2 separate regions of the Homo sapiens genome follow, and region 2 is linked to region 1. The links come from fine-mapping of genetic effects on gene expression. A gene starts in region 1. The other region holds a variant in brackets. All regions are shown on one strand. Distances are between the middles of the regions.

Region 1 (5,000 bases):
CTGTAATCCCAGCACTTTGGGACGCCCAGGCAGGCAGATCACTTGAGGTCAGGAGTTCGAGACCAGCCTGACCAACATGGTGAAACCCCATCTCTACTAAAAGTACAAAAATTAGCTGGGCATGGTGGTGCAGCATCTGTAATCCCAGCTACTCAGGAGGCTGAGGCAGGAGAATCTCTTGAACCTGGGAGGTAGAGGTTGCAGTGAGCTCAGATCGTGCCACTGCACTCAAGCCTGGGTGACAGAATGAGAGCCTGTCTCAAAAAGAAAATAAATAAAATGAGGAAGATTATTAATGAGGCTGAGCATCTTTTCATATGTTTAAGAGCCATTTGTTTTTCCTTTACTGGAATGACCTATTCACCTTCTCTGGCAATTTTTCTTTCCAAAAAATTAATTTTTAGGAGCTCTTTATATATTAGGGAGATAACAGGTCAGAGAATGGGATCACTTTGTTTTTAAAATGATTTTTAAAGAAGAAGACAAAAACTATATCTGGTCACCTTTCATATGTACCTAGGCCCTTCTGCGGGGCCTCGCCTAGAGCAGTCACAGAAATGTCCTTGGGCAAAGGATGGGTTTTCCTAAGAACTTCTTTGTCCTTGCTAAGTGGGACCATCACCTCTTTCTCTCCCACAGGGCTACGGCATGGCATACACTGTCCACAAGTGGTCAGAGCTCAGCTGGGCCAGTCACTGGGTCACTTTTGGATGCTGGATCTTCTACCGTCTCATAGGCTGAGGCACATCTGTGGACCCTCATAACCCTCTTAAGACCCCTCTCAGGGTGCCACTGATGGGGGATGAGGGAAGGCCCTCTCTCTACTCCTTGACCCCCTCCATCCTTGACCCCCAACACCTCAACACACACACACACACACACACACAAAATCACACCATTTTCATGCCTGTCAATCCCCACCCCACCACAAGGCAGGAAGGGGGTGGTGCCTGCTGGGGCCTAGAGGGGGATGCTTGGGGAAACAGAGAAGGGGAGATCCAGGGCCTCCCCGCCTTCCTTCTTCCTTTTTATATACAATTTGTTATTGTCAAATAAAAGTAGGAAATATTCAATAGGCTTCTTCTTCACTGCTCAGAGGGGAATAGGAATGAGTGAGGAAGGGAGCACAGCATGGATAAAGGTTTGGAAGCTGGAAACCATGAAGAGAGAGCAGACTGTGATTGGTTCATGGTTAGTTTATGATTGATTAGATGATGAGCCTGAAGATGGCAGGATCCTGGTCCTGCTTGGTTTGATCAGGGCAGGGACAGATTGCATAGTTGGATGTGGGGGAGGCCTGATTGGCTGGAAAACTGAAGGATCCCCATTCTGATTGGTTGCTCTGAGTGGGACACAGAGGAGAGAAAGCAAGAGAGATGAAGGGTTGGTGCCTATTTATCCTTAGGACTGAGGGTTGTGGGTTCTAATTGGATGGGAGGTCTGGGATGGGTCTGGATTCTGATTGATTGCTCCATCTGGGGGCCCACTGGTGGTTAGGCGTTTGATTGGCTTTTTAGAACTGGCATATGGAGATTGAGGGTCTTCATGCCAATTGGTCAGTAGGACTGAGAGGCCTGGGTTCTAACTAGTTCTTCTGACTTGAGGTCGGGAGAAGAGAGAATGACCGCTGCTATTAGGACTGAGGAGTTCTGAGCACTGAAGAGCTGGGGAGGGGGTGGTTGCAGTGTATAGCGTGTGATCTGCTTGTAACAGTTTCGTTGCATTATACTAAGGGTTACTCTACCTAGAAAAGGGCGGAGGTGAAAGGATGCAACGCAACGCTAATTTCACCAGCGGAAGAAGCGGGTACAGACCTTAATGAGTCCCCGTTTTGATCGACTGATAAGGGAATGGGGAAATTGAAGCCAGGACTCGATGCAGATTGGCTACGGATCCAAAACGCCCACTAACCTTGGCGCGTCCCAGTCTCCACCCCAAACCTAACTCAGGTGAAAATGGCGCCACGCGCGGGGGCGGGGCTAGAGGTACAAAGAGAGTGTCTATTGGTTGGGAGCGGCACGGGCCGCCTTCTTCGCTTCACCATTGGCTCGCTCCGTAAGGCAAGAGAACCCACTAGGGGATGAGCCCGAACTAGGGATGTGACAGAGCGCGAGACCCAGCCTAAAGAGAGCCCGGAGCCAGCGTGGGAGGCCGCTGCCGTCGCGCGCCTTGGTGAGTGCCCTCCACCCGGCCCCTGCTCCCTCCCCCAGCTCTCCCCGGCTACGCGGCCAGCCCTCGGCGTGCCAGCGCGAGACCCTTTGCCACCCGCCCCCCCCACCGCCCTTTTGCGCCTGCGCGAGACCCCCAGCTACCGCACGGTTGTCCAGAGGACAGAAGATCCGTCTTCTCATTGGGCAGCGGGACTGGAGGGTTCTGGTTCGGATTGACCGGCTTTGTGTTCCGTTCTAGCGCTGCACGCCAGACACCGGCCTTTCAATATCCGTCTCTTCCCTGCAGGTTGACGGCGTTGCACGCTCTCGCGGGGAGGCTCTGGCTTTCCAAACGCTGGCACCGAGGGTTGTAGTTCTGATTCGTTTTCTTTCCTCTGTCCCCCAGTTGCAGTTTTCAGGACTACGTGGGGGAGGGAATAGCTTTTTGTTGAACGGTTTAAGACGCTGACCTGTGCAACTGGACCACGCCTGGTTCCTGTGTCTCTTACCAAACCGTGACCCCGGAGCACAGGACTGGGTTTGGTGGTCGTGAGCAGTTTGTGACCCTTGAAGGAAGACACCAGGCCTGGTCCTGTATCTCCCTCGCCAGACTGTGACCAGGGAGGGCTGGGATCAGGTGTTGTTCCCATGTGCCTCCCACCAGACTTTGACCCCCGAGGGCTGAGACCGGGACTGTTTCTACCACATCATAATATGGCTTCTAAAGGGCTGGAACAAGCTTTCAGCCTTTCTGTGGCCTTGTGTTTCAGTCATGTTCTTTTTCTTTTCTTTTTTATTTTATTTTGAGACAGAGTCTCGCTCTGTTGCCCAGGCTGGAGTGCAGTGGCATGACCCCGGCTCACTGCAGCCTCTGCCTCCCAGGTTCAAGCGATTCTCCTGCCTCAGCCTCCTGAGTAGCTGTAACTACAGGCGCACGCCACCACACCTGGCTAATTTTTGTATTTTTAGTAGAGACGGGGTTTTGCCATGTTGGCCGGGCTGGTCTTGAACTCCTGAGCTCAAGTGGTCCACTCGTCTTGGCCTCCCAAAGTGCTGGGATTACAGGCGTGAGCCACCGCGCCCGGCCTTCTTTTTTAGAGGCAGAGTCTCAGACTGGAGGGCAGTGATGTGGTCACTGCTCACTTCAGCCTTGAAGTCCTGGGCTCAAAGCGATCCTCCTGCCTCAGCCTACCTACTAGCTGGGACTACAGGCCTTTGTCACCACACCTGACTGATTTTCTTATTTTTTTAGAGACAGTTTCGCTGTGTTGCCCAGGCCGGACTTGAATTCCTGGCCTCAGGTGCTGCTCCTGCATCAGCCTCCCAAAGCACTGGAATTACCTGCCACGGTGCCTGGCCTTTAGTCATGGTCTTAAAACAGAATGTAGGCCGGGCGCAGTGGCTCACGCCTGTAATCCCAGCACTTTGGGAGGCTGAGGCGGGCGGATCGTGAGGTCAGGAGATCAAGACCATCCTGGCTAACACGGTGAAACCCCGTCTCTACTAAAAATACAAAAAATTAGCTGGGCGTGGTGGCAGGCACCTGTAGTCCCAGCTACTCGGGAGGCTGAGGCAGGAGAATCGTTTGAACCCGGAAGGCAGAGGTTGCAGTGAGCCGAGGTCGCACCACTCCACTCCAGCCTGGGTGACAGAGCAAGACTCCGTCTGAAAAAAAAAAAAAAAAACGGAATGTAATTAGAAGTGTTACAATCCTGTCTGTTAACTGGTAAATTCGGTCCATTTACATTTCTCATGATAATAAACTATTTGAATTTGATTTTATTATCTCATTCTGTACTTTCTATTTGTCCAGGTTTTTCTGTTCCTTTTTTTTTTTTTTTTTTAACTTCCTGCCTATACACACGCAGCCATCAGCCCACAAAGACATGACTACCAACGCGGGCCCCTTGCACCCATACTGGCCTCAGCACCTAAGACTGGACAACTTTGTACCTAATGACCGCCCCACCTGGCATATACTGGCTGGCCTCTTCTCTGTCACAGGGGTCTTAGTCGTGACCACATGGCTGTTGTCAGGTCGTGCTGCGGTTGTCCCATTGGGGACTTGGCGGCGACTGTCCCTGTGCTGGTTTGCAGTGTGTGGGTTCATTCACCTGGTGATCGAGGGCTGGTTCGTTCTCTACTACGAAGACCTGCTTGGAGACCAAGCCTTCTTATCTCAACTCTGTGAGTCCTGATTTCTTTCATATGCTGTGGGATGGGATTTGCTGGGCAGGGATCGGCTTGCATGTTTACCTATCCACCTATTCTTCTTCCATTGATTTATTTTAAATTTTTATTTAATCTTTTAAAAAATTTATTATAGGCCGGGCACAGTGGCTCACGCTTGTAATCCCAGCACTTTGGGAGGCCGAGGCAGGTGGATCACTTGAGGTCAGGAATTTGAGACCAGCCTGGTCAACATGGCAAAACCCCATCTCTACTAAAAATACAAAAATTAGCCAGGCGCGGTGGCTCAAGCCTGTAATCCCAGCACTTTGGGAGGCCGAGGCAGGCAGATCACGAGGTCGGGAGTTGAAGACCAGCCAGGCCAAGATGATGAAACCCCATCTCTACTAAAAATACAAAAATTAGCCGGGTGTGGTGGCACACGCCTGTAATCCCAGCTACTAGGGAGGCTGAGGCAGGAGAATTGCTTGAACCTGGGAGGCGGAGGTTGCAGTGAGCCAAGACCATGCCATTGCACTCCAGCCTGGGCAACAGAGTGAGACTTTGTCTCAAAAAAAAAATTATTATGTATTGTTATTATTATTCTTTTTGTTTTTTGCCCTTCTCTAAAACTGGTAGATAACTTATTTTTGAGACAAGGTCTTGCTCTGTTGCCCAGGC
Region 2 (5,524 bases), 230 kb after region 1:
TAAGGACACAAACCATTTTAGCTCAAGTTCCATTTGGGAGAACTGGTCGCATGGCCCCACCCAGGGGCAAGGGACAGTGGGAAGTGGAACTTCTGGCTGGACAGCTATTTTGCAACAGCTCAACGTGCGTGACTTTTGGGAGCAGCTAAACATCACTGTGACACCCTGTCAGATGGGTATCATCCCCGTATTACTGATCAGGAATCTGACGGTCAATGCAGGCAACGGACTCACTCCAGGTCACTTAGCTAGATTCGTTATCATGATCACAAACTAGGTGTCCCCTCTTCCAGCTCCTGGCCTGATGCCACCTTGATCAGCCAGCTCACTGCTTTGAATTTTAGGAAGAGTCTCAGGCCTCCTCATCCAGAGGGTGCTTTACTTTATAAAGCAGTTTTAACCTGAGAACTTCACCTCATCCTCAAAATGTCCTGGTGAGGGAAGCAGGAAGCCAGTGATCCCCATTTAACAGATTAAAAAAAAAAAAAAAGCAACTGAGTACAATCAGTTCTGAAGAGCAGTGAAAAGCCCAAGGTCCCAGGCACTGCAGACCTTCCCAGCAATAGATTCCAGATGTTTCTCTTCCTCCGGTATCCTCAATGTCCATGAAAAGAGGCAGGCTGTGGGTCTTCCACATTGATGAAAAGTGAAGCCCACATTCTAGAACCCATGTGTCATGTGCACTGCTTAGGTGATATTCAAACTTTCCCCCCTTTCGTCAGTGACTCCTGAATGTGCACCTCCAGCATCATTCCTTCCCCAATGTGTGTGACCCCAGGGGCACCCTCTCCTCATTCTGTGTGACAGCACAGCTGTCCACCCCATAGTCTGTCTGACCCCAGGAGTGTCCACTTACCAGTCTGTATGACATGAGTGTTCACACTCTTGTGATGACAGAGGTGTCCCCACCGCAGGGTGTGTGACTCTAGGAGTGTCCAAACCCCTATCTGTGTGACTACAGTTGTGTCCACATGCCAGTATGTGTGGCCCCAGGAGTGCCTACCTCCAAAGTTGTGTGACACCAGCAGTATACAGCCAGTCTGTGTGACCCCAGGAAGGTCTACAACTCAGTGTGTGTGAGTGTTCAAACCCCCATGTGAGTGACCCACGGGAGTGCTGACCCCCCATGTGTAGTACCCCATGACAGTCTGCTGCCCTTCCTATGTGATCCCAGGAAGCACACTGCCCAGGGTGTGTTACTCCATTTACAAGACCCCAGCGATGTTCACACCTGATCTGTGTGAGCCCAGGATAATTCACATTCCAGTCTGTGTAACCCGAGGGCCGCCCCACACTGCAGCTGCTGTGACCTCAGCAGTATCTACTCCCAAATCTGCATACCGAGGAGTGTCCATGACTATCCTGGGTGACCACGGCAGCATCCACAACTCAGTCTGTGACCCCAGGGGTGCCAATTCATCATTTTTTTTTGGACCACAGGAATATCCACTTCCCTAAAACTGAGATTGCAGGAATGTTCCTAACACAGCCTACGTGACCACAGGACTGTCCCCCCCTTAGTCACTGTGGCCCCAGGAGTGTCCACACCCCAGTCTGTGTAACACTAGGAGTACCTGGTCCACAATGTGTGATTTCAGGGGTGCCTGCCGCCCAGTGTGTTTAATATTAGGAGTGTCCCAAACCCCCTGTGTGACCCTGGAAGTGTCCACTCTCCAGTATGGGTGGCCCTTGGAGTGTTCACACCTCTGTCTATATGACCCCAAGTCTGTCCACAGTCCAGTCTGAGTGACTCTAGCGATGTCGAAACCCCCATCTTTGTGACCGGCCAGCACTCTAGGTGACCTCACAATTGCCCACACCTCAGGCTGTATGAGCCCAGGAGTGGCCACATTCCAGTCCGAGAGGCCCCAAGAGGCTCTACATTCCAATCTGTGTGAACCCAGGGACGTGCACACCCCAGACTATCTGACCTTTAGGATGTCCACATCCTCGTGTATGTGACCCTAAGAATGTCCACTAGCCAGTCTGGATGACTCAGGAGTGTCTGCTTCCCGGTCTACGTGGGAAATGTCCACATACAAATCTATGTGACCCTGGGAATGTCCACACTCCAATCATTGGGACCCCAAGACTGCCCACCCCTCAGTTTGTTTGACAACAAGAGTGTTGACACCCTAGTCAATCTGACCCCAGAAGTGCCTGCATCCCCCTCTGTGTGACCCCGAAAGTGTGCATTCTCCAGTGTGTGTGATTCCTGGAGTGTCCGCTCTGCAGTGTGTGTGAGACTCCTGGAATGTCTGGAACCCCATCTGAGTAACCCACAGCTGTCCACATGCCAGTGTGTGCTGCCTCAGGTGGCATTCACAC[TTCTA/T]TCTGTGTGACCCCAGGAGTGCTCACACCCCACTCTGTGACTCCAGGATTATCCACACCCCTGTCTTTATGACTGCAAGGTTGTCTACACAACAGTCGTGTGATCGATCCCAGGAGTATACACACAACAATTGCACAACAGCAGGTTCCAAGACAGTACTAAGTTCCTCACCACCGCCACTCCTGCACACCCTCTGTGGTGCGACCTGTGAGGGGCTGTTCATGCCTCAATTCAATGGATCATTTTGTCCCAAGCTCCCTCCAACACCATTAAGTGGTCTCTTCTATTCCTATTGCCCCTCTGTCTCTCCAGTGGACCATTCAATTTCCATCCCCCACTTCCCAACCACATGTACACACACAGGTGCCCACCTGCATACACATATATGTGCATGCACATCCCCAAATAGACCATCCCAGCATCAGACCCTGCACAGCTTGTAGGGAGCAAAGATCAAGGAAGCCAACCCCCTGCTGCAGGCCCCACCCCATAGAGAGTAGTGGGGAGGAAATCAGGAAATGCATTCCTGATGAGAGTAAAACCTTCTAGGACCTTGTGAAGCATCTACAGAAATCAATATTGGACACTCTCCCCACTACCCCCAGCTCCATGTGGGCAGGGACATTTGTCTGCCTTATTTTCTGTTGTCTGGCCAGCACTTAGAACAGTGCTGGGCACACAGTACACACACATTAGGTGTTTGTTGAATGAATGAAACTTGATCCAGCAATTCCACTTCTTTTTTTTTTTTTTAGTTTTTTTTAGTTTTTTTTAGTTTTTGCCCTGTTGTCCAGGCTGGAGTACAATGGTGCGATCTCAGCTCGCTGCAACCACCACCTCCTAGGTTCAAGCAATTCTCTTGCCTCAGCCTCCTGAGTAGCTGGGATTACAGGTGCCTGCCACCACACCCGGCTTATTTTTGTATTTTCAGTAGAGACGAGGTTTCACCATGTTGGCCAGGCTGGTCTTGAACTCTTGACCTCAGGTGATACGCCTGCCTCAGCCTCCCAAAGTGCTGGAATCACAGGCATGAGCCACTGCGCCTGACCTGAGCAATTCCACTTCTAACTCTAACACTCACACATGTGCACAAAGCTGTGTGCACAAGGCTGGTGGGAGCAGATCAGAAAAACCTTGTAAATGTCCATTTATAAAGAATGACTGTTGCAGAGTGAAATGAATGATGGAGGTTCATGTCGCTCCACAGAGCACTTGCTGGACATGATACAGAATGAAGGGGACCTGCTGCATTTCTGGAGGGATTGCAGAGGACTTCAAGGAAGCAGGGATGGTGATTCCTACCACATCCCCATTCAACTCTCCTATTTGGCCTATGCAGAAGACAGATGGATCTTGCAGAATGACAGTGGATTAGCCAGGTGATGACTTAAGCTTAACGTAAGCTTAACTAGGTGGTAATTCCAACTGCAGCGGCTGTACCAGAGGTGGTTGCATTGCTTGAGCAAATTAACACATCCCTTGGTACCTGGTGTGCAGTTATTTGATCTGGCAAAGGCCTTTTTTCTCCATCCCTGTCCATAAGGCTACCAGAAGCACTTTGAACTGGCAAGGCCAGCTGTACTCTGTCACCATCCTGCCTCAGTGGTATATCAATCAACTCTCCAGCCCTATGTCACAATTTAGTCCACAAGGACTTTGATTGCCTTTCCCTTCCACAGGTATCACAGTGGCCCATGACATTGATGATATTATGCTGAGTAGACATAGTGAGCAAGAAGTAGCAACTACTCTAGACTTATTGGTGAGAAATTTCTGTGTCAGAGGGTAGGAAATAAATTCAACAAAAATTCAGGGATCTTCTACCTCAGTGAAATTTCTAGGAGTCCAGTGGTGTGAGGTCTGTCAACATATTCTTTTTTTTTTTTTTTTTTTTTTTGAGATGGAGTCTCGCTCTGTCACCCAGGCTGGAGTGCAATGATGCAATCTCGGCTCACTGCAAACTCCACCTCCCTGTTCAAGCGATTCTCCTGCCTCAGCCTCCTGAGTAGCTGGGATTACAGGCACACGCCACCATGCCCAGCTAATTTTTGTATTTTTAGTAGAGATGGGGTTTCACCACGTTGGTCAGGTTGGTCTCAAACTCCTGACCTCATGATCCGTCCGCCTCAGCCTCCCAAAGTGCTGGGATTACAGGCGTGAGCCACTGCACCCAGCCAATATATTCCTTCTAAGATGAAGGATAAGTAGTTGCATCTGGCCCCTCCTACAATCAAAAAAGAGGCACAATGCCTGGCACACCTATTTGGATTTTGGAAGCAACACATTCCTCATTTGGGTATGTTACACATGCCCGTTTACCAAATGACCTGAAAAGCTGCAAGTTTTGTGTGGGGCCCAGAACAGGAGAAGGCTCTGCAACATGTCCAGGCTGCTGTGCAAGCTACTTTGCCACTTGGGCCATAGGACCCAGGAGATCCAGTGGTGCTTGAAGTGACAGTGGCAGATAGGGATACTGTTTGGAGCTCTTGGCAGGCCGCTATAAGTTAGTCATAGCCTAGCCCTCTAGGATTTTGTTTTATTTTATTTTTTGAGACAGGGTCTTGCTCTGTCACCCAGGCTGGAGTGCAGTGGCACAACACAGCTCACTGCAGCCTTGACCTTTCAGGCTCAGGTGATCCTCCCACTTCAGCCTCCCTAGTAGCTGGGACTGACTGCAGGTGTGCACCACCACATCTGGCTAACTTTTGTATTTTTTGTAGAGATAGGGTTTCCCAATGTTCCCGAGGCTGGTCTCGAACTCTTGGGCTCAGGCAATCCACACGTCTCAGCCCCCCAAATGAAATTTGGTGAGCCTCCTTTAGGATTTTGGAGCAAAGCCCTGCTATTCTCTGCAGATAACTACCCTCCTTTTGAGAAACAGCTCTTGGCTGGGTGTGGTGGATCACTCCTTTAATCCCAGCACTTTGGGAGGTTGAGGCCAACACATCTCTCTCTTGAGCACAGGAGTTCGAGACCACCCTGGGCAACATGGCAAAAATCCATCTCTACAAAAAAATACAAAAATTATTAATAGCTGGGTGGGGTGGTGCATGCCTGTAGTCCCACCTACTCAGGAAGCTGAGGTGGGAAGATCGCTTGAGCCCAGGAGGTCGAGGCTGTAGTGAGCTGTAATTGTGCCACTGCAGTGCAGCCTGGGTGACAAAGTGAGACCCTGTCTCAAAAAAAAAAAAA

Evidence for each region. PIP is the estimated chance that this variant, and not a neighbour inherited with it, causes the effect.
Region 2: its variant is the best candidate, but not a certain one, in a credible set for the expression of EBP in cerebellar hemisphere (GTEx, PIP 0.83).

What each region holds. Positions count from the first base shown.
Region 1 is chrX:48,519,736-48,524,735 of GRCh38, forward strand. EBP (EBP cholestenol delta-isomerase) reads left to right here and starts at 2,073. Exons shown (of 5, transcript NM_006579.3): 1 at 2,073-2,172; 2 at 3,964-4,337. The coding sequence starts at 4,037. It overlaps PORCN (porcupine O-acyltransferase), which reads left to right. Exons shown (of 15, transcript NM_203475.3): 15 at 640-1,073. The coding sequence ends at 741. RefSeq lists silencers at 914-973, 1,888-2,117, 2,178-2,357.
Region 2 is chrX:48,752,603-48,758,126 of GRCh38, forward strand. No RefSeq gene overlaps it. Among named protein-coding and RNA genes, the nearest start is that of GLOD5, 6.4 kb to the right of the region's middle. The variant TTCTA/T (reference allele first, on the strand shown) is at 2,329.